Homo sapiens: one gene and its partners. The protein of the gene in region 1 purifies or fractionates together with the protein of each later gene. This does not show direct contact. Each region holds a gene or a part of one and is shown in the gene's direction. Other genes may lie near its edges.

What was found. The genes of interacting proteins can lie anywhere in the genome.
Region 2: the proteins of MORC1 (region 1) and GMEB1 purify together in Homo sapiens (affinity purification with mass spectrometry; 2 studies listed by BioGRID and IntAct, with this or other methods). This does not show direct contact.
Region 3: the proteins of MORC1 (region 1) and HERC1 purify together in Homo sapiens (affinity purification with mass spectrometry; 3 studies listed by BioGRID and IntAct, with this or other methods). This does not show direct contact.

Annotation. Positions count from the first base shown.
Region 1 is NC_000003.12:109,108,108-109,115,139, reverse strand, and holds part of MORC1 (MORC family CW-type zinc finger protein 1), read left to right. Parts: intron 1-702; coding exon 703-756; intron 757-4,351; exon of another isoform or gene 4,352-4,356; coding exon 4,357-4,391; intron 4,392-4,799; exon of another isoform or gene 4,800-5,171; intron 5,172-5,290; exon of another isoform or gene 5,291-5,376; intron 5,377-7,032. UniProt on the Homo sapiens protein: Required for spermatogenesis. Essential for de novo DNA methylation and silencing of transposable elements in the male embryonic germ cells.
Region 2 is NC_000001.11:28,713,776-28,719,877, forward strand, and holds the end of GMEB1 (glucocorticoid modulatory element-binding protein 1), read left to right. Parts: intron 1-297; coding exon 298-998; 3' UTR 999-5,578; downstream 5,579-6,102. UniProt on the Homo sapiens protein: Trans-acting factor that binds to glucocorticoid modulatory elements (GME) present in the TAT (tyrosine aminotransferase) promoter and increases sensitivity to low concentrations of glucocorticoids. Also binds to the transferrin receptor promoter.
Region 3 is NC_000015.10:63,608,094-63,613,956, reverse strand, and holds the end of HERC1 (probable E3 ubiquitin-protein ligase HERC1), read left to right. Parts: intron 1-1,400; coding exon 1,401-1,706; intron 1,707-4,690; coding exon 4,691-4,876; 3' UTR 4,877-5,339; downstream 5,340-5,863. UniProt on the Homo sapiens protein: Involved in membrane trafficking via some guanine nucleotide exchange factor (GEF) activity and its ability to bind clathrin. Acts as a GEF for Arf and Rab, by exchanging bound GDP for free GTP.

The DNA of each region.
Region 1 (7,032 bases):
GAAATATGCCTCATCAGGACATGAGAAGCAAGCATGGGAGCCTTAAGCTAGTGTGATTCCACCCTCAGATAACTGTGCACCCTCCAAACTGTTGTAAATACTGAAGGCTGTCTGGAGCATTCTGTTACCGAGGACCTGGCATTCGAGGGTACAGGAGAAAGTGACCTGAGGCCATTTTTAAGGTTATGTAAGGAGCAGGCTTTTCAGCGGTGGAAAGATTCTGCAGAAAAATACAGATTGGTGAGGCACGCAAGGGCTTCCTGCCAGTTCCTTTGCCTGCACATGGAGCCTTATGGCCTTTTAGTAGGCAAGGATTTTGATCAGTATTCTTCAGAAATATCTTGTCTTTAAATAATACAATTTTAATGAAAAATCCTCTGGGAAAAACCTCACTTGAAAACATGCTTATAAAGTAATATTAAAAGGTCAAAGTTTATTTCAATGATAGATACTAAGGCCCTTAAATTTTTATTTTATTAGAAGTGGACAGGATATTTTGGCAAAAGTGTTTTTAACCCTCGCTTCATAATGGAGGGTATCTAGTTCCGAATCTTGACCGTGCTGAGAGAGTTGTTTCTAGAGTAACTTCTTAATTCACTAGATGTCTGGAACTGGAGAACGTTTGTCTGCAAGAATCTTAAAGCTTTTACATTGATTACACACCTGGTTTAACTTTTTGTTTTCTCTTTATTTCTTCATCAGCACCACTCACAGTTTCCTTTTTGGAGCACTGGCTGAATTGCTGGACAATGCAAGGTAAGGTTTATCTGTAAACAACAGTTACTGAGGGAATTTCATGACATAACTCTTGTCTAATTACATGGGAAGATAAAAAGATCATGTCATATTTTCCCATCTGGAATGTTTTGTGACTTGATTTCCTATAAAATCAAGGTGTTCTAGGAAAAAGGATAGTTGAGAGAAATAATTATTCACCTTTATTTAATTTTAATTTATGATCAAACTTGAAGTCTGTTTTTATGTTAATAACCATTTAATTGTACATATTCATTTAGATATTTTTTGAATTATATGTCAGTGTATACTTGTCTTGAGAATTTACACATGTATTTGGGCATTTATTGAAGTCTGCGTAGAAGCAAATTGTATAGTTAAGAAAATAGCTAACTTATTGATCTCTTACTATATATCAGACATACATAAGCACTTTATATATGAGCATTATGTCATGCATCCTTATATCTACACTCTGAGATGGGAATTAATATCCTAGTTCTACATGTGTGGAAATTGATGCATAGAGAGATTAGATGATTTATTCAAAGTCACATAATTCATATTTGGCAGAGCTGGCATTCAAATTTGGGCAGTCTGGCTGCAGAACCTCACTGTCGTATTTTACTGTCTCTAATAAATGTATTAATGATTAAGGAACCCGTTAAACAGTTTAAGTTCTGCTCAGTAGTGTATTTGTGGGAGCTTGTGAGGGGCTTCATTTTTTTTTTTTTCAGTTAAATTGAATAAAGCATTTGACGTGTTTTATATTGGTATTCCCCATAACAGAAGATTTTTTCCTACCTTTTGCTTAGAAAGCAAAGTCCATCCAGGAAGTAATGTGCAGTTGTTAGATCAAGGATCTCAGTAGGAGCCTAAATTCCCTGCCACTGGTTGATAACAGTGTTTTAGCTTTTTTTGCATTTGTTCCCCATTTTTTGCCTTAGATGGGAGATGACCCTTCTGAGAGTGTGACCACAAAGTGTAGTCAATTAACCAGCCATCCAGAAATTCCTGCCCTGCACTAAGTAGAAAGTCGTTATCTCCTCCTTTTAGGAAACTCTCTCTGTTGAGCTAATGGAATCATAAAAAGGGAGGGAAGTAGAGAAAAAGAATAAAGTCTTGTTCAGAGCCATGAACTCAGCTTGGAAGGAGCTAATAAGGATGAAGCCAAGAAAGATAAACACTTTTGATTAGCTTCCCTAAAGGAGCTTAGGGTTGCTACTGTTGCTGCTGCTCAAAGCTTGGAAGCAAGGCTCCTCCTATGTCATCGGTCCTGCCTCCTACTGAATGGGCCCACTTTCAGCAACTTGACATCTGCAAGTCTGAAAGAACACATTTATCTATTTTTCCAACTGTCTTTTCTCCTTTGAAGTTGTTTCTTTCATTCATTCAACAAAGGAGGACAAGTAAAATCAGAATGTGGAAGAAGTAGAATAAAAGAAACATTTTATGTAGTAGAGGTTGATTGGGAAAGAAAGATTGACTTCAGACTCAGGGGACTGAGAGAAATGTGATCGATAAACTAATTCTTAGAGCAGCATTTGTAAGCTGGCAGCCCCTTGACCAGGTCCAGCCTGTCTTATGTGTGTTTGGCTTATAGTGAAAGTTTGCACAGTGTTTATAAAGAAAAGGAAGGGAGAAAAAAGGAATTGTTTATAAGGTTTAAGATATTGGAGATACCAAATAAAAAATTTGGGCCCTCTGCCTTCCTTGAAAGATTAGGAGAAGTAGCAACCTCAAGGCCACATTCCTCCACGGGATCAGGGGCTGGAGGTGAGTAGCAGGTGCTCTCTTGGGACCAGCCCATGCCTTCAGCTTTGCCTCATTTCCAGTTTTCCCCCGTGGACAGCCTCAACCCTTCAGTCCCTCTTTCTTCATGGACGTTTGAGTTTTCCACCATTGCTTAGATGCTAGTAGTTGACATCAAAAGAAGCTATTTAACAGACTTAAGATACTGAGTTGGTCTTACGAAGGAGAACTTTATGAAGTCCCCATGTTATTCTAAGAAATTCTTTTATATCATTGTATTCAATATTTTAATGATTTCCTGTAGTTTTAAAAATTAGAACTGAAAGATATTAAAAGAATATTGTAGAGAGAGAAGAAGAATGTGTGGTGATATAGGAAGGATTTGTTAGGGTCCTCTTCCTAATACAATAGCTCTTCAGAAAGGAAGTATCCTGGGCTAAAGAACAAAGATTATTATAAAATGTCTTAATATATGATAAAGGTGAATTATTTTATGCCTTAATCCGTGGAAGTGCTGCATGAAAAAACTACCTCTTTAAAAACTTACATTTCAGTACAGTGGCATTTATTAAACATTTATTGTGTACATGGTACTTTGTATAATGCATGATTATATAATGGAGATATTGATACCTATGTGTTATGGAACTATGGTAAGGATCGGAAGAGAATTTTCAAAAATACACCATTCAGTGCTTACTTGATACATGGGAGGTGCTCAAGAAATGGCAGTGGTAACTCCAGAGTGTCTATATAGGGAGGGCTGAGAAGCAGCAATTGGCTAGAGGAAGGAGCTATATGGGACTAACTTCTAGGCCTGTGGAGCAAGTACAGTGTACCTACTCAGATTTGTCTGGGAGTTTTGGGTTTAGAACTGATGGAACTTTGGAGAGACGCTCAGGTTTCCCCACCAGAGTTACATAGTTGCTGTTGTTGCACTGAGCTTCCTTTTAGACTCCTCCCTGCCTTAACTTACCTTCTTCCTCATCAGCTAAGTCTTCCTTGCCTATGCCTTCCTCCTTTCTCTCACACCCTCGATATTGAAGCCAGAGTCTTCTGGCCTTTTCTTCTTTTCTATTAAAAATTTTACTTTTAAAAATAATTGTAAAAAAATACAAAAATAATATCTGTGAATTTTAGAAAATGGAGAATTTTTTTTAAAACAGTCTTCATCAGTACTCTCATCACCTAGAAGAGGAGTCAGCATCCTTTTCTGTAAAAGACCAGATGGCAAATATTTTCACCTCTGTGGGATACGGGGTCTCCTTTGAAACTACTCAACTCTGCCACTGTAGTGCTGAGGCAACCTTAGATACTATGTAATGAATGGGCATGATTGTGTTCCAATAACACTTTATTTACAAACAGTTGATGGGCCATTTTGGTCCGTGGCTATAGTTTTCCAACCTCTAACAAAGAGAAAACTCCTATTAACATGTTGATTTCTTTCCTTCCATGTATGTTCTTTAAAATGTCTTCTTATAGTACACTATTACCTAGTAATTTGATTTTTCTTTTTTTTTTGAACTAAAATATGAAAAACATTCCATGACTTCTGGATTATTTGCCAGCCAGCTTTTTTTGTTTTTTTTTTTTTTTTTTAAATTATATCCATTTTGTTAGTTTTTTGTGTAATTCCCACTAAATTCCATCTCTTCTTTCACATTTCTGAGTTGCAGTCTTTTTCATATTCTCAAATTATGACTAATCATAGGTCTTATGATATAATAGCACGGTGAAACGTTTTAGAAATTGATTTTGAAGCAATTTAAGTGGATTTTTGTATTGTTTGATATCTGACAATAGGTTATACCTTATGTAAGCAATTCATTTCATATTGAAGAAATAATATTTTTGTATTGTTTCCAGAGATGCAGGGGCTGAAAGACTTGATGTCTTTTCAGGTGAGCAGATTTGCTTTCTTCTTTTATTTTCTTCTAATGGAAAGACTGTAGTTATTTTGCTTGTATTTTATTTCATGAAATAAAACCACATTCTATAGAATTTTAATGTAATCTAAGTGCTTTGTGGGTACAGTGACCCTGTGGGGAGCCAGGGTGAGGAGAGTATACTCTGAGAGTCAAATTGTGTGCTAAAGGACCCATTTACAAAATTAGGTCTTCCAGAGTTTTGTGAATGTATCAGAGTGATTTGGAGCACTCAATTTGCCTGCCATGAGAAACAGTTTTATTTTTAAAAAGTATATTAAATTAACGGTTATTCATAATTAAGCATACATCATTCCCAACTTAGTAGTTTCAAAGTGTGTACGTGAATGTGCGGTATGAGGGCTAGAAAATCCAAACCAAATCTGTTTTCTTTGCTGACTTTATTCGTAGTCATCAAGTATTTATTGCACTCACTAGTTATCTCATTAGACTATGATGCTAATGAAGTTAGGTTCTGTGATCCAGCTCTGTAGAGTAATGCCCAGGTAGTCACGCAGCATCCCTACCACATTTCTGTCAGCTGTTCTGCAATATTGGCTACTGGTCACGGGTGAGAGGATATGCTCCATGATCTAAATCCATATCTCTGTTTAAAAAGCACCTCAGTTAACTGAGTGTTCTGAGTCAGAGGAGTGCTTACGCTTCATGAGAGAGATAGACGTGGACCTCTTGAGATAACTGAGGAAACAATAAATGACACTCTTCATCTCCTTCTCCTCTCCAGGTCCTGAAAAACTTGAGAAATAGAAAAAGAGTCAGCCTTTATTGCTGATAAATGTTAGGCTGGAGTATGTAGCTTAGTGTGAGAGAGCAAATGGACTTGCAGGTCAGACCCCGGGATCACGTGGACTCACCCGCCCAGTGGAGTTGGGCTTCCTCTGAAACTCTTTTGCCCTGGGACAAGGGATCAGGACTCACGCTCTCTGCAGGCAGCTCTCTCCTAGGAGGAAAATGCAGGGTCAGAACTGAGCCTCCCCAGTTTATTCTTCCCTAAGTGACCAGTAGGTGAGTGAGCTAACCTCCACAGGGGAAAAGTGAGTGAAGGCACAGAATAGGGCCTTTCTAGTGAGAAAAAGTCATCTTCCCTTCCATATCCAATAGAGTAAAATAAGATGAACACTCTTGCATAGGAGAGACTCAGAGTATGGTGGGAACACAGGGAAAGAAGAAATTATGCCTCATATTAAGGGGCTAGAGCTTGAAATATGAATGTGATTTTTGTCAGATACTCCAGGAAGAAAAGAATATTCCTGTCTAGGTAATAATTATGAGAAAACAAATGGAGATAGGCTAGTTCACAGATTCATTAATTTATTCAGTAATAATTTGTTGTCTATTATTCTAGGTACTGGGGATAGTGCACTGAGAAAAATGTTGAGGTCTTTGTTCCCCTGGAACATATATCCTAATGGGGAGAGATAGACAATACAGAAATGAACAAATATGTAATATACAAGGCAATGATAAGTGCTAAAAGGGAAAAAAATAAAGCAGGATAAGAGAACAGAGAGCCATGGAAGGGGTATACAGCTTTTCATGGGTGGTCTAAGAGGGTTTCTTTAAATAGCTAACACACAAGCAAAGACCTGAATGATGAAAGGGAGGGAGCCACACAGATGTCTGGTGAAAAAGCACTCAGGGAACAATGCTGAGGCTCGGTTGACTCGCACTAAGTGTCAGAACCAAATGAATGAGCATCTTCAATACCATACCAAGGTTTTTTCTGCAGTCAGTGGACCACTGAAGAACTTTGAGCAGTGTCAGTTTTCTAAGTAGACATGTGGTCTTTTTTTTTTTTTTTTGTGAGACGGAGTCTCGCTCTGTCGCCCAGGCTGGAGTGCAGTGGCGCGAGCTCGGCTCACTGCAAGCTCTGCCTCCCAGGTTCACACCATTCTCCTGCCTCAGCCTACCGAGTAGCTGGGACTACATGTGCCCGCCACCATGCCCGGCTAATTTTTTTTTGTATTTTTAGTAGAGCCGGGGTTTCACCATGTTAGCCAGGATGGTCTTGATCTCCTGACCTTGTGATCCGCCCGCCTCGGCCTCGCAAAGTGCTGGCATTACAGGCTTGAGCCACCGCGCCTGGCTGAGCTCTTTTCTTTTTTAAAGAAAGATACTCATTCCAGAAATACCTTACAAGAGAGTCTGGAGAAGTATGAAAGCAAGGATAGCAGGGAGGTATGGCTATGGGAATTACCTAGGCAAGATTTCATGAGAATTATAATAGGGCAGTAGTACTAGAAATGGAGGAGGAGAGACAGATGTAAGCTGCCTTTCATTCAGAGCACATGCACAATTGATGGAGGATTGAGAAGACTTATCCATAGTCACAAAATATAACAAATGTAATCAGAATCCACGCATTATGTTCTTTGGGGTTTGTGACTGGAGACCAGCAGGGAATGAGAGTGTTTATTTCACCCTACTTTCTCTAAGTACTCAGTTTATCTTCATAAACAAACAAAATAAGATCTTGACCAAGTTGAGATTAAAGTGGCACTTCTCCTTTTTTTTCGAGATGGAGTCTCACTCTGTTGCCCAGGCTGGAGTGCAGTGGCACCATCTCGGCTCATTGCAACCTCCGCTTCCCAGGTTC
Region 2 (6,102 bases), on another chromosome or scaffold:
GGCTTATGCCTGTAATCCCAACACTTTGGGAAGGTGAGGTGGGTGGATCGCTTGAGGCCAGAAGTTCGAGGCTATAGTGCGCAATGATAGCACCTGTGAATAGCCACTACCCTCCAGCCTAGGCAACATAACAAGACTCTGCCCCCCAAATAAGCACAAGAAAGAAAACAATGTCACAACTTGCCTGAAGCTACTTAGTAACAAAACCAGACAGAGACACCAGGTCTCCTGACTCTCAGTTTAATGCTCCCAAGATTTTACTTCCCTCTACACAAAGTCTTTTCTTTTTTTCCATAGACTTGGAACGCCAGTTGGAGGAGCAGAAGAAGCAAGGCCAGGATCACAGGCTGAAATCTCAGACAGTTCAAAATGTGGTACTGATGCCTGTGAGCACTCCTAAGCCTCCAAAAAGGCCCCGGCTCCAGCGGCCAGCCTCCACCACTGTCTTGAGCCCTTCTCCTCCTGTCCAGCAGCCTCAGTTCACAGTCATCTCACCCATCACCATCACCCCAGTGGGTCAGTCATTTTCCATGGGCAATATTCCAGTGGCCACCCTCAGCCAGGGCTCCAGTCCTGTGACTGTCCACACACTGCCTTCTGGCCCTCAGCTCTTCCGCTATGCCACAGTGGTCTCCTCTGCCAAGAGCAGCTCACCAGACACAGTGACCATCCACCCTTCATCTAGCTTGGCGCTGCTGAGCTCTACTGCCATGCAGGATGGGAGTACACTGGGCAACATGACCACCATGGTTAGCCCTGTGGAATTGGTGGCCATGGAGTCCGGCCTAACCTCGGCAATTCAGGCTGTTGAAAGCACCTCAGAGGATGGGCAGACCATCATTGAGATTGATCCAGCCCCGGACCCAGAAGCTGAAGATACTGAGGGCAAAGCAGTCATCTTGGAGACAGAGCTGAGGACTGAGGAGAAAGTTGTGGCTGAGATGGAAGAACACCAGCATCAAGTTCACAATGTGGAGATTGTGGTCTTAGAGGATTAACTGGGGATCTCAGGGCCAGGAGTTATGTTTTGATTTGGAATTTTAATTATTTGTTTATTTTTATCATTGTCCCACTCATTTCCACATAGGACCCTTTTTTAAAAAAAAAAAAACAAAATCTTATTGTTGTAACTGAAAATGTTGGGTTCTTCCCACTCCCTCATTGAAAAATGGACAAAACAAGCTGCCCTTCCAGAAGTTGAGAGTAGGTCATTCAATGTCCTAATCATCTTACACCAAGAAAGTAATTTCTTTTAGGGGAAGTGTCAAGATAACAAGTAACCCTGTCCAGAAAGCCATTTCCAGGCTCGTCTGTGTGTGTAGGCATGTGGTTTTATTCTTGTAAAGATGCATTGACCAAACTCTGGAACACAGATCTGACACTGGAAGGCAACCCACTCGCATGTGGATGCTGAAGGGCACTTTATTTTGTATCCTGAAAAGGGCCTACAGAGGCCAGTACAAAACTCTCAAACAAAAGGAAGTTGACTCTGCTTTGAGGGGAAGGTGGCATGCCAGCACTAGCTTAAAAAGGGAAGTGCTAGCCGGGCGTGGTGGCTCACGCCTGCAATCCCAGCACTTTGGGAGGCCGAGGCGGGTGGATCACGAGGTCAGGAGTTTGAGACCAGCCTGGCCAACATGGTGAAACCCCGTATCTACTAAAAATACGAAAAAAAAATTAGCCGGGTGTGGTGGCGGGAGCCTGTAATCCCAGCTATTCAGGAGGCCAAGGCAGGAGAATCGCTTGAACCTGGGAAGGCAGAGGTTGCAGTGAGCCAAGATCGCACCACTGCACTCCAGCCTGGGCAACAAGAGCGAGACTCCATCTCAAAAAAAAAAAAAAAAAAAAGTGCTTTGGCAAGTATGGGGCAGGGAAATCATCTTACTTCCAGAGGTGCAACTGACGCCTCTGGAGATCTCCAAAAGTTAGTACCGTGAGTGCCATTTTGAGAAGAAGGTGGTAATAAGTGGAAGGTACATCTCCACAGAGCAAGTGGCAGCAGTGGCCTGTGGTTTTGCAGAAATGGAAAGCCAAGGCCGGGTGCGGTGGCTCATGCCTGTAATCCCAGCACTTTGGGAGGCCGAGGTGGGTGAATCACCTGAGGTCAGGAGTTTGAGGCCAGCCTGGCCAACATGGTGAAACCCCGTCTCTACTGAAAATACAAAAAAAAAAAATTAGCTGGGCATGGTGGCACGCGCCTGTAATCCCAGCTACTTGGGAGGCTGAGGCAGGAGAATTGCTTGAACCTGGGAGGCGGAGGTTGCAGTGAGCTGAGATCATGCCATTGCACTCTAGCCTGGGCGAGGAGTGAAACTCCGTCTCAAAAAAAAAGAAAGAAATGGAAAGCCAAGGATGCTGCAGCTGTGCTTTGGGGTTCAAGGTAATAGCTTACCTTGTTCCACACTTTGTCAAAGCACTCACCCTCCTAAGCTAGGACCAGTCCATTCATTTGAAACTGTGCAATGTGATGTAAATGGCTCTGGTTCTTAGACTGTGGCTGTCACAGGGATGGGGCTCCAAGGCCATCATTTTCATTGCATGGCTCCAAGAGCAGGGAGTTCCTCAATGAAACCAGCTGCCTTTTTTGGTGGGGCCATTTTTTTGGCTTTGGAACCCAAAGCAGCCACTCATTTGGTGCTTCCTCTTGTTCTGCCCTCCATCCCTCAACTCTTAATGGCATCTGTCTCCTAGAACCCACGCTCTTCAGCTTTTTGGCTGATTTGGAGAACAGTGACAGGTGCCTGCCTGCCTTCGTCCCCTTTTAGATTCATTTATACCACAGATGTTTCTGTGAGATACTGAGATCATAAAAAGCTTTAGGCTTGGCAGAGAGGACTCAACACCCCCAGGCTTTCCTGAGGCACCAACTAGATGTCTCTTGAGTGAGCTGGACTCCCTGGGAAAGAAGCATTGTCTGCAACATTATATTATAGGAAATGTACCAGGAATGTCAATAATAATGCTTTGGGGGGGGGGGTTATTTTGTTTTGTTTTGTTTTTAATGTTGTTTGTATATTTAGAGCTGGGCCATTTTCCGTGCTGCGATTTCTTCTCTTTGACCCTCTTCAGTGTTTGGGGCAAGAGTGGACCCTGGTTTTTATTTCTTTGATTGCATTGTTTACTGCACTAGGAAAAATATAGAGATACAGGGAAACTACAGACAAATTTAAGGAAAAATAGGTCAAAAAAGAAAGCACACACCTTAAGAGTGGGAGGAATATTTTTATTAAAAACAAAACTTGGACCTGTAGTTTTTTTTTTTCTTTTTTATTTTTAAGAAGGCACCTTTCAGAAGCCATGTTTCTTCCAACAGATGTTGGAAACCCCATCGAGCAAGTAAAAGTTGCATTCTCCATCCCTCAGATGGCTGTATGTAGTCAAAGAAACCCTGTAACATGGTAAGGTTGCTGTTTTTTTTTTTTTTTTCTTTTTGAGATGGAGTCTTGCTCTGTAGCCCAGGCTGGAGTGCAATGGTGTGATCTCAGCTCACTGCAACCTCCGCCTCCTTGGTTCAAGTGATTCTCCTGCCTCAGCCTCCTGAGTAGCTGGGATTACAGGCTCCCACCACCACGCCCGGGTAATTTTTGTATTTTTAGTAGAGACGGGGTTTTGCCATGTTGGCCAGGCTGGTCTTGAACTCCTGACCTCAAGCGATCCGCCCGCCTTGGCCTCCCAAAGTGTTGGGATTACAGGCATGAGCCACCGCACCCAGCCTGAAGGTGACTCTTAAGAATGAGATTTATGAACTCCATACAGTTGTAGATTTCAGTTTTTAAATAGTCTGGGGTTTTATTTTTCTTTTCAAAATATCTAATAGACTTAGCAATCAATTTAGAACAAATATTTGGCCCTTAATATATCTTTAGTGAGGGAAGTAGCTTTTATTTCCTGCTTGTTTAGGTTTTCTGTTGGTACATAAAAACAAAATTGCTGTCTCAGACTGAATCTACTTGAATCTAGGAAGGCACATCTCATCCCTATTGTGGTTTTTAGGGACACTTTTCTCTTTCCCAGAGATGAGAGGACCAATTCAGGACAGAAGAGCCCTCGTGAATACCAACGTGCTAGCTCAGGTTCCCTTCTTTCCTCCATCAGAGCTATTGGTAGGGTTTTAAGGTCGTGTGTGCATCATGCTTCCAATGTCAAGAGATTTCCTCAAACAGCCTGTTTACTAGATGAATTTTCCAGCTGGTGAAATACATGAGCTTTGTTGTTTTCCTGGTCTTCCAATAGCCTGTCATTATTGTTAGATATTATGGCACCTGTTGTTGAATGTAGGTTCCCTTACAGCCCTGGTCTAGATGATCCTAGATGGGGTGAGACATATGCAAGCCATTGGTATGTGCATAAGCAGTTGCAATGAACCTTAGGCTGACTTGGTAGTAGGCATTTGTCTTTCTGTTCATGCATTGAATAAACATTTTTAAGAACCATCTATGTGCCAGGCTTTGTGCTAGGCACTGACAGTAGAGAGATGAAGACATAGTCCTTGCACTTAAGGAATTCATACTCCAGATGTCTGGAGTTAAGAAATACATATTTCAGCCAGGCATGGTGGCTCACACCTAGAATCCCAGCACTTTCAGAAGCTGAGGCAGAATTGCTTGAGGCCAAGAGTTTAAGACTAGCCTGGTCAACATAGCCAGACCCCATCTCTATAAAAAAATGTAAAAATTAGTCAAGTCTTGTGGCTCGCACTTGTAGACACAATTACTCAGGATGCTGAGGCAAGAGGATTTTGCTTGGGCCTAGGAGTTCAAGGCTGTAGTGAGCTATGACTTTGCCACTGTACTCTAGCCCAGGTAACAGGGCAACATCCCCAGCTCAGAAAACCAAAACTACACATTTCATTATAATTGTTTTTTTTTGTAATTTTATGTATTTTATGCATTGAAAAACATTATTTAAGAATTGGTTCATAGGTTTCAGCAGACTGCCAAAGGCACAAACAAGCAGCTCTCCTTTACTGAGGTACTGAAACAGATCCTACTGCGTAAGTGCTGTGTGTGATAGGGCTATTGGCTAGGAGCTGAGAGAACAAAGCATGAAGTGCCTAACCCAGCTTAGCGGTGTAGAGGTGGGGTCAGCAAATAAGGGAGATCTTCCTGGAGAAGGCATATACCTAAGCTGATTTAGGAGAGACCACTTTTGGCTAGGTTTATTGTACTACTTGATTTTCAAGTAATTGGGCTTATTTATTCTAGAGAAAAAGTCTTCAGTCTCTTGCTTCTGCCTGCAAAGCAAGGCAGAGTCAGCAACATGGGCAGTCTCCCCACTGGAGAACGCTGAGTCATGCATGGGCTTCTCCAAGTTTCCATCAGATGGGATCCAGTGTTGAATCCAGTGCAGGACTGGAGTCTAGCTGGCAAAGGGTAAATGCCCCCAAAGCCTTCCTGCCATATGGTTTCCACGAAGGCCTGAGAGTCAGCTGTACAACTGTCTTGTCTTGGCCATGTCCCTGTTTGGTCCCTGCCTTGTTCTCTTCCCTTTCTCAATTTCCAAGCTCCACCCACTCCTAAAAACACCAGTCATTCTGAAGTAAAAAATGGACAATAAACATGAATATTCAAGATTCAAAGCCACTTCATATGAAGGTTCTTTTGCACCTCTGTCCTTATTAGGGAAGGAGGACCAATGTTAATCCAAACATCTGGAAAATTAATATTCAGTTCAGGTGGTTCTGACACCCACTAGTGGTAGCATTTTATCCCATTTCATGAAAGGCATTAAAGGTAAGACTATGGTGGAGAGTGTTGATTATAAAGATAGTAAAAGTCAAGCATGAAATGTGGAATTAGTAGTTGAGTTATAGCATCCAGGTTTTAGTACTATCAGAGAGGTGGAAAGGACAAAGGAAAGGTTGAATTCTGAAAATCGGCATGAGGTTGTGATTCACCTTGGGCAGTTTGAGGAACTCGTCCTCTCTGAGACATAATGTCATACACTAGCCTAGCTCCTGCATTTTGAGACAACTTTCCTAGTACAATTGATCACTTCCCTGGAGGTGCAGCACATCCCTTACTCCAGGTTAGTTCCTCCCTGGGAAATCCTCCCTGGGAAATTTTTGTGTAGTCTGAAATGTGCTGCCATAACAACCAAGGT
Region 3 (5,863 bases), on another chromosome or scaffold:
TGTTCGTTTTTGTTTTCGTTTGGCAGACTTTGGTGGGGTATTGACCTTTACTATCAGAAGAGACTGCCTTTACTGCCAATCTCTGATCCTTATGGGACAACCTTAGTGCCAGTTTTTTATTATTTTATTTTTTAAGAGAGGGTCTTGCTCTGTCACCCAGGCTGGAGTGCAGTGGCACTCACTGCAGCTTTGAACTGTTGGGCTCAAGGGATCTCCTGCCTTAGCCTTCCAAGTAGCTGGGATGACAGGGCAAACCATTGTACTTGGCCCAGTTTTTTTTTATATATATAATAAATTTTATTATGTATATTTAAGGTGTACAACACGATAATATAGGATATGCATATAGATAGTAAAAAGGTTATTATAGTGAAGCAAATTAACATATCCATCACCTCACATAGTTACTCACTTCCTTAAGGTATGGTCCCTATTCAGATTCTTAGACTTTTTAAATGGTGGTAGATGGTTTTGAGTTGGCCAAGAGCAAAGAAGTATTTATGAAACAAACCTTGAACAGTGGTGAGTCTGTGTGTAGGGTATGCACTACTGTATAATATTGGAGGAGACATTTTTCTAAACAAGCTGTCAAGGCAGCCCCTGGTTGCACCCTACTTGGCACTCCCCAACTTGCCTGTGCCCAGCACTATGATGCTAAGAGAACAGAGCAGGGTAGAATTACCCAGTCACACAGAATTTCATGTAGTTACTCATATACAGTTCTCATCAGAGCCACATGAGAGCAGCAATATCTGCTTTTTTCAGACGGAAAAATTAAGAGAGTTAATAATTGGCAGAGCTGGGAGTTAGAACCCAAGTCTCTTCACTAAATTCATTGCCTCTTCTATTGCCTTCCTAAAGAAGGACTTCCCATTTTTACTTTCTTCTTTGTACTTTTCAGATTTTTTTTACGATGAGCACAAATAATTTTTACAAAAAGGATATAATTATTTTCAAAAGACAAATATAAATTTAAAAAACAGTAGGCAGCTAGTTGAGTGCCCCCAAAGCTTCTTACCTTTATGAGATGAAGTGTCCACACATGCATAGTTTGACAGCACATGGGCACATATGATTAGGAATATGAGTGAGTGGGGCTGGCATCAGGGAAGGCCCCAGTGGGCTGAGATTTTGTGGTAGAGGGAAGGCAGGCTCCTAAATTGGACTTGAACTGGAACCAGGAGTGTAAGAATCCCACAGCAGGGAGGCACTCTAACAAGGGTTGAGAGGCAGGGAGGGTGGGCCTTTTTGACTGACTCTCGTGCCTGGCGGTCTGAGAAACAAGTAGAGGGTCTGGGGAGCGGACGAGCAGGCATCAGGAGGCGCCTAGCCCCACAGGGCCCTTGGTGGGTGCCAGGTTCACGCACACTCATTGAATGAGCAACCTCTCCCGGGAGCAGGTGGCTGCAGTCCGAGAAGGGATGTCCTGGATTGTTCCTGTGCCGCTGCTGTCCCTCCTCACAGCAAAACAACTGGAGCAGATGGTGTGTGGGATGCCCGAGATCTCTGTGGAAGTCTTGAAGAAAGTGGTGCGGTACCGTGAGGTGGATGAGCAGCATCAGCTGGTGCAGTGGTTCTGGCACACGCTGGAAGAGTTCTCCAATGAGGAGCGGGTGCTTTTCATGAGGTTTGTGTCAGGAAGATCTCGACTACCAGCCAACACTGCTGACATTTCTCAGAGATTTCAAATCATGAAGGTTGATAGGGTAAGTAAGCTATTCTTTTTTCCTTTGTAATGTCTGCCTTATTGCTTCATTGTTGTTTTTGTTGAGACAGGGTCTCACTCTGTGGCCCAGGCTGGAGTGCAGTGGCATGATTTTAGCTTACTGCAACCTCCGCTTCCTAGCTTCAAGCAGTTCTCCTGCCTCAGCCTCCGCAGTAGCTGGGACTACAGGTGCGTGCCACCACGCCTGGCTAATTTTTTTGTATATTTTGGTAGAGACGGGGATTCACCATGTTGGCCAGGCTGGTCTTGAACTACTGACCTCAGGTGATCTGGTCACGTTGGCCTCCCAAAGTGCTGGGATTACAGGCGTGAGCCAACACGCCTGGCCCTCTGCGCCTTGTTGCTTTTATGTTGGGGAAAACAAACTATGACCCTCAAGTAGGCCTGCCGATTCATGCTTATTAATACTTAGAATTTCCAGATTAATGAAAAAAATCAAGCAGTAAAATTTGTTTAGAAATATCATTTAGCTTCAGTGGGAAGAGTCCTAAGTGGATGAAGAGAGCATACTACAACCAACAACCTTCCCTAAATCTTCCAGCATCTTCCTGAGTTAAAGCTGAACTTGGCAGAAGGATCATCATACTGCCTCTTCCTGTGCTGAGGCATGGCCTTGTTTGTTTTCATGAAAATATTAACCATTAACTGGTGGGTGTGCCCCAGAAGGAACCCAAAGATGTGGGGAGCAACGATAACCTCTGTGCCCACTTGTGTTGTGTGCCTTGTGGAGCAGGCAGGGCTGCATCTCTGCCATCTGATGAAAGGCCCCAGCTGCAGAGCCCCAGCCCAGCTGTGATTTTGACAGATGGCTTAGGAATAAGAGGGCTTAGAGTCTGAAAAGCACACTGCTGCCAGAGTCATCTTTCTTAAGCACCTGTCTGACCATGTCACTCTCCTCCTTTTAGACCTTTCAGAGACCCCCTTTGTTGACTCCGAAATAAATGCCAATGACCTTAGCTGCCTTAAACACTTCCACAGTCTGGCCTCTGCCCCACTTTCTGATGTGACGTCTTGATACTTCTCATGTTCTGGTCATAATGGGCTGCTTGCCTTTCTCCCCAGTAGACCAGGCTGTTTTTAAAATTCTGTGCTTTTATGTAACCTGTTCCCTCTGCTTTAGTAAGTCCTTCTTCACACCCCTTTCCTTCTATCTCTGGCAAGCACTTACTCATCCTATAAGCCCAATGCCAGTCATCTCCTCCAAGAACCCCTCCTAGATGCTTTCCAGGAGTGCCCCTACCATTGCTGAAGGCAGACCTAGCCAGACTCCTTCTCTCCACCTCCTGAACACTGGGTACAGCCCTCAAACCCAGAACTTACTGCATTCAGTTAGGAGTGCCTCTCCTCCCTCTGTCTCCATCCCCACTCTTCACAAGCCCTCTCTCCCACATGAGCTGGGCAGTTCTCTGAGCAGGGCCCATGATGTTTGTTCAGAAAACAGTAAGGGAAGTGGGGCCTCTTCACACACAGGCCCTTCCTGCCAGTTTAAGTGTCTGGCTTTCTGGTGTAGCCAAAGCTATTCCTCCCTGTGCTGCCTCCTGAGGCTGCAGGCTGCTGCTCTGCTCCTGGGCTAGGCTTGCTGGAGAAGCCACGTGCAGGAAGGATTATAAAAGAGCCTTTCCATAAATTTTCTGCATGACTTGCCAAGAACTGTAAGTTGTAAATCTGTTTTGTTGCTTCAGAGAGAAGTAGGAAGGAGGAAATGGCTCATTTCTACTCAGCTCTGGAAACAACCCTTGCCTTATATCTGTCCTGGGCTACTCCTGCCGTTCTAGGAGTTAATCCACCACTAATCTCCGGTCTCAGGGTTGTCAGCATCAGTAACTGACTACCGTGGTCGGTTCCTCTGTGGCTTTTAGATCATTTCTACAGTACTCACATTTAGGTCATCAGAGCCACCTAGTGGCACCTCCCTTCCTTGCTGCTTTCAGTTTTTCTGCGTTGAGCTGTGTCATCACTGGCTCTGGTGCATTTGGGCTGCTGGGCCATCCACCTCCCATAGCAGGACATGTGGCTTACCTAGGTGTGGGCTCTGGGGAGGAGGGCTGATTTCAAGAGGAGGTTGAGTGAGAGAAGACAGGTTCTTTTTTTTTTTTTTAAGCAAACGTTTTAAAAATTTATAAAAACACTATAATGCCATTACTATTATTACAAATTGTTTAGAAAATAGTTATGTTTGCAAGGAGGGATAGGGAACGTATATAATCCTGTCTCTCCAGTAGTAGCTATTTTTACCTTTGTGAAATTCCTCATAGTCTTTGCCTCAATTGTACAAATTTTTATATGATGTATCTAGAATTTTTTCTGCCTTTAACCTCCTAATGTATCCTGAACACCTTTCTGTTTTGCTGCCAGTCATCATAATTATCATTTTAAATGATGCATCACCGTCAGTTGAATGGATGGACTGGAGTTTAATTGACTGCCCCTTCCTTATGTGAGCTGTGCGAGGCAGCCATGGCGCCTGCAAAGGAGGCAGAATGCACATGAGGACAGGGAGAGGAGAGGGGGCAAAGAGGCTCCCATGGCCAGCTGCACCTCACAGTCGTTCTTTCCATTCTACCTGCTCTGTGGGGGCATCCCTGCAGCTGGCTTCCAGTCTGCACCCTCTTGGTGGATGGGTATGAAGGACAGGTGCCCTCTTACTACACTCTCATCCTGTGCCAGGCGCTGTGCGTAGTGTATTCTCTCAAGCAATCCTGCCAGTCAGAGCTTCTCCTCACTTTACACACACAGGCACTGGAGGAGGTGAGGACAAGAAGGAACATCTTCACCCAGAGCCTCGAGGGCCACGGGGCAGTAGGGCCTCAGCTCATTCTATCTGGCCCAGTCTCTGTGTCCACTTGACTTAACCATGTGGCCATGTTAATTCCATCTTGAAGGCAGGGAGAGGTCATGGGCAGCCCCACTCCCCCTTATGGCACTCTGATGTCCCCAGTCACGGCTCTGGGTCTCTCTCCACAGCCTTACGACAGTCTGCCTACCTCACAGACCTGCTTCTTCCAGCTGAGGCTGCCCCCGTACTCCAGCCAGCTGGTCATGGCCGAGCGCCTGCGCTATGCCATCAACAACTGCCGCTCAATCGACATGGACAACTACATGCTCTCGAGAAACGTGGACAACGCCGAGGGCTCCGACACTGACTACTGACCGTGCGGGTGCTCTCACCCTCCCTTCTCTCCCTCAATAATGCTCACTTCTGATTTGATGTTGATATACTTTTATGGTAACTACATAGATGTTATAAGAACATAAACCAACATTATAAACAATGGCCACATTTAGTTACTCTAAATGTAACAAAGAAATTAGATGTTTTTATTTTTCTGTGATTGTACAAAAACAACAAAAACGAAGTGCTCTCAGTCAGGTTTTTCCCTCCATATTTTTGGTCACTTTTGATAAGTTTGCATGAAACCATTTTGGTGCATTTTTAGTTGGGAATGGTACATTTTTGTAAATCCACCCAGTGAACATGAAATTGTACATTGTGTATAATTGTTCATTAGAAAGGACAGTTTTACATGAATATTCATATATTTATTTTGTTTTAATTTGAATTGCCTGTTCAGGGTTCCTTATGCAGAGAAATAAAGCAGATTCAGGAATTGGAGCGTGGCTCTTGGTATTGCTTCCTGCGGAGCTTCTGACTAGGGGTTACCATCGAGGCAGACATTAGCCCAGAACAGAATGAGCTTCCAGGCTGGTCTTGCTCTGATGGCTTTTTGACCCATTCAGAAACATTTCTTTACATTGAGGGTGGGCTTCACTTGGAAATAACGTATCAGAGAACCGTGTGGTTCTAGGAGATCCCTCTGGGTTGGAAGCCCCTATTTTCCATTGTTCTTCTGTCATCCTGGGTCTCTCTGACTTTGTTCCCTCAGCTGCTCCGCCCCTCTCAGTACCACGCATCCTTCTCTGGACAGCCCCAGCTACCTCATGTGGAGGGCGACTCTACCAGACAAGGAGGAAGAGGACCACAGTAATGCCATCTGGCCCTTCCTATGAAGAACCTACAAAGACAAAATGAGCACGTGATGGAATTAAAGAACAGGGTAGTTTACAACATGTCTCAGTGGGGAGGGCAGCCAAGTGGAAGGTGTTACAGAAAGGCCAGCAACTGCTAGCAGGCACTTA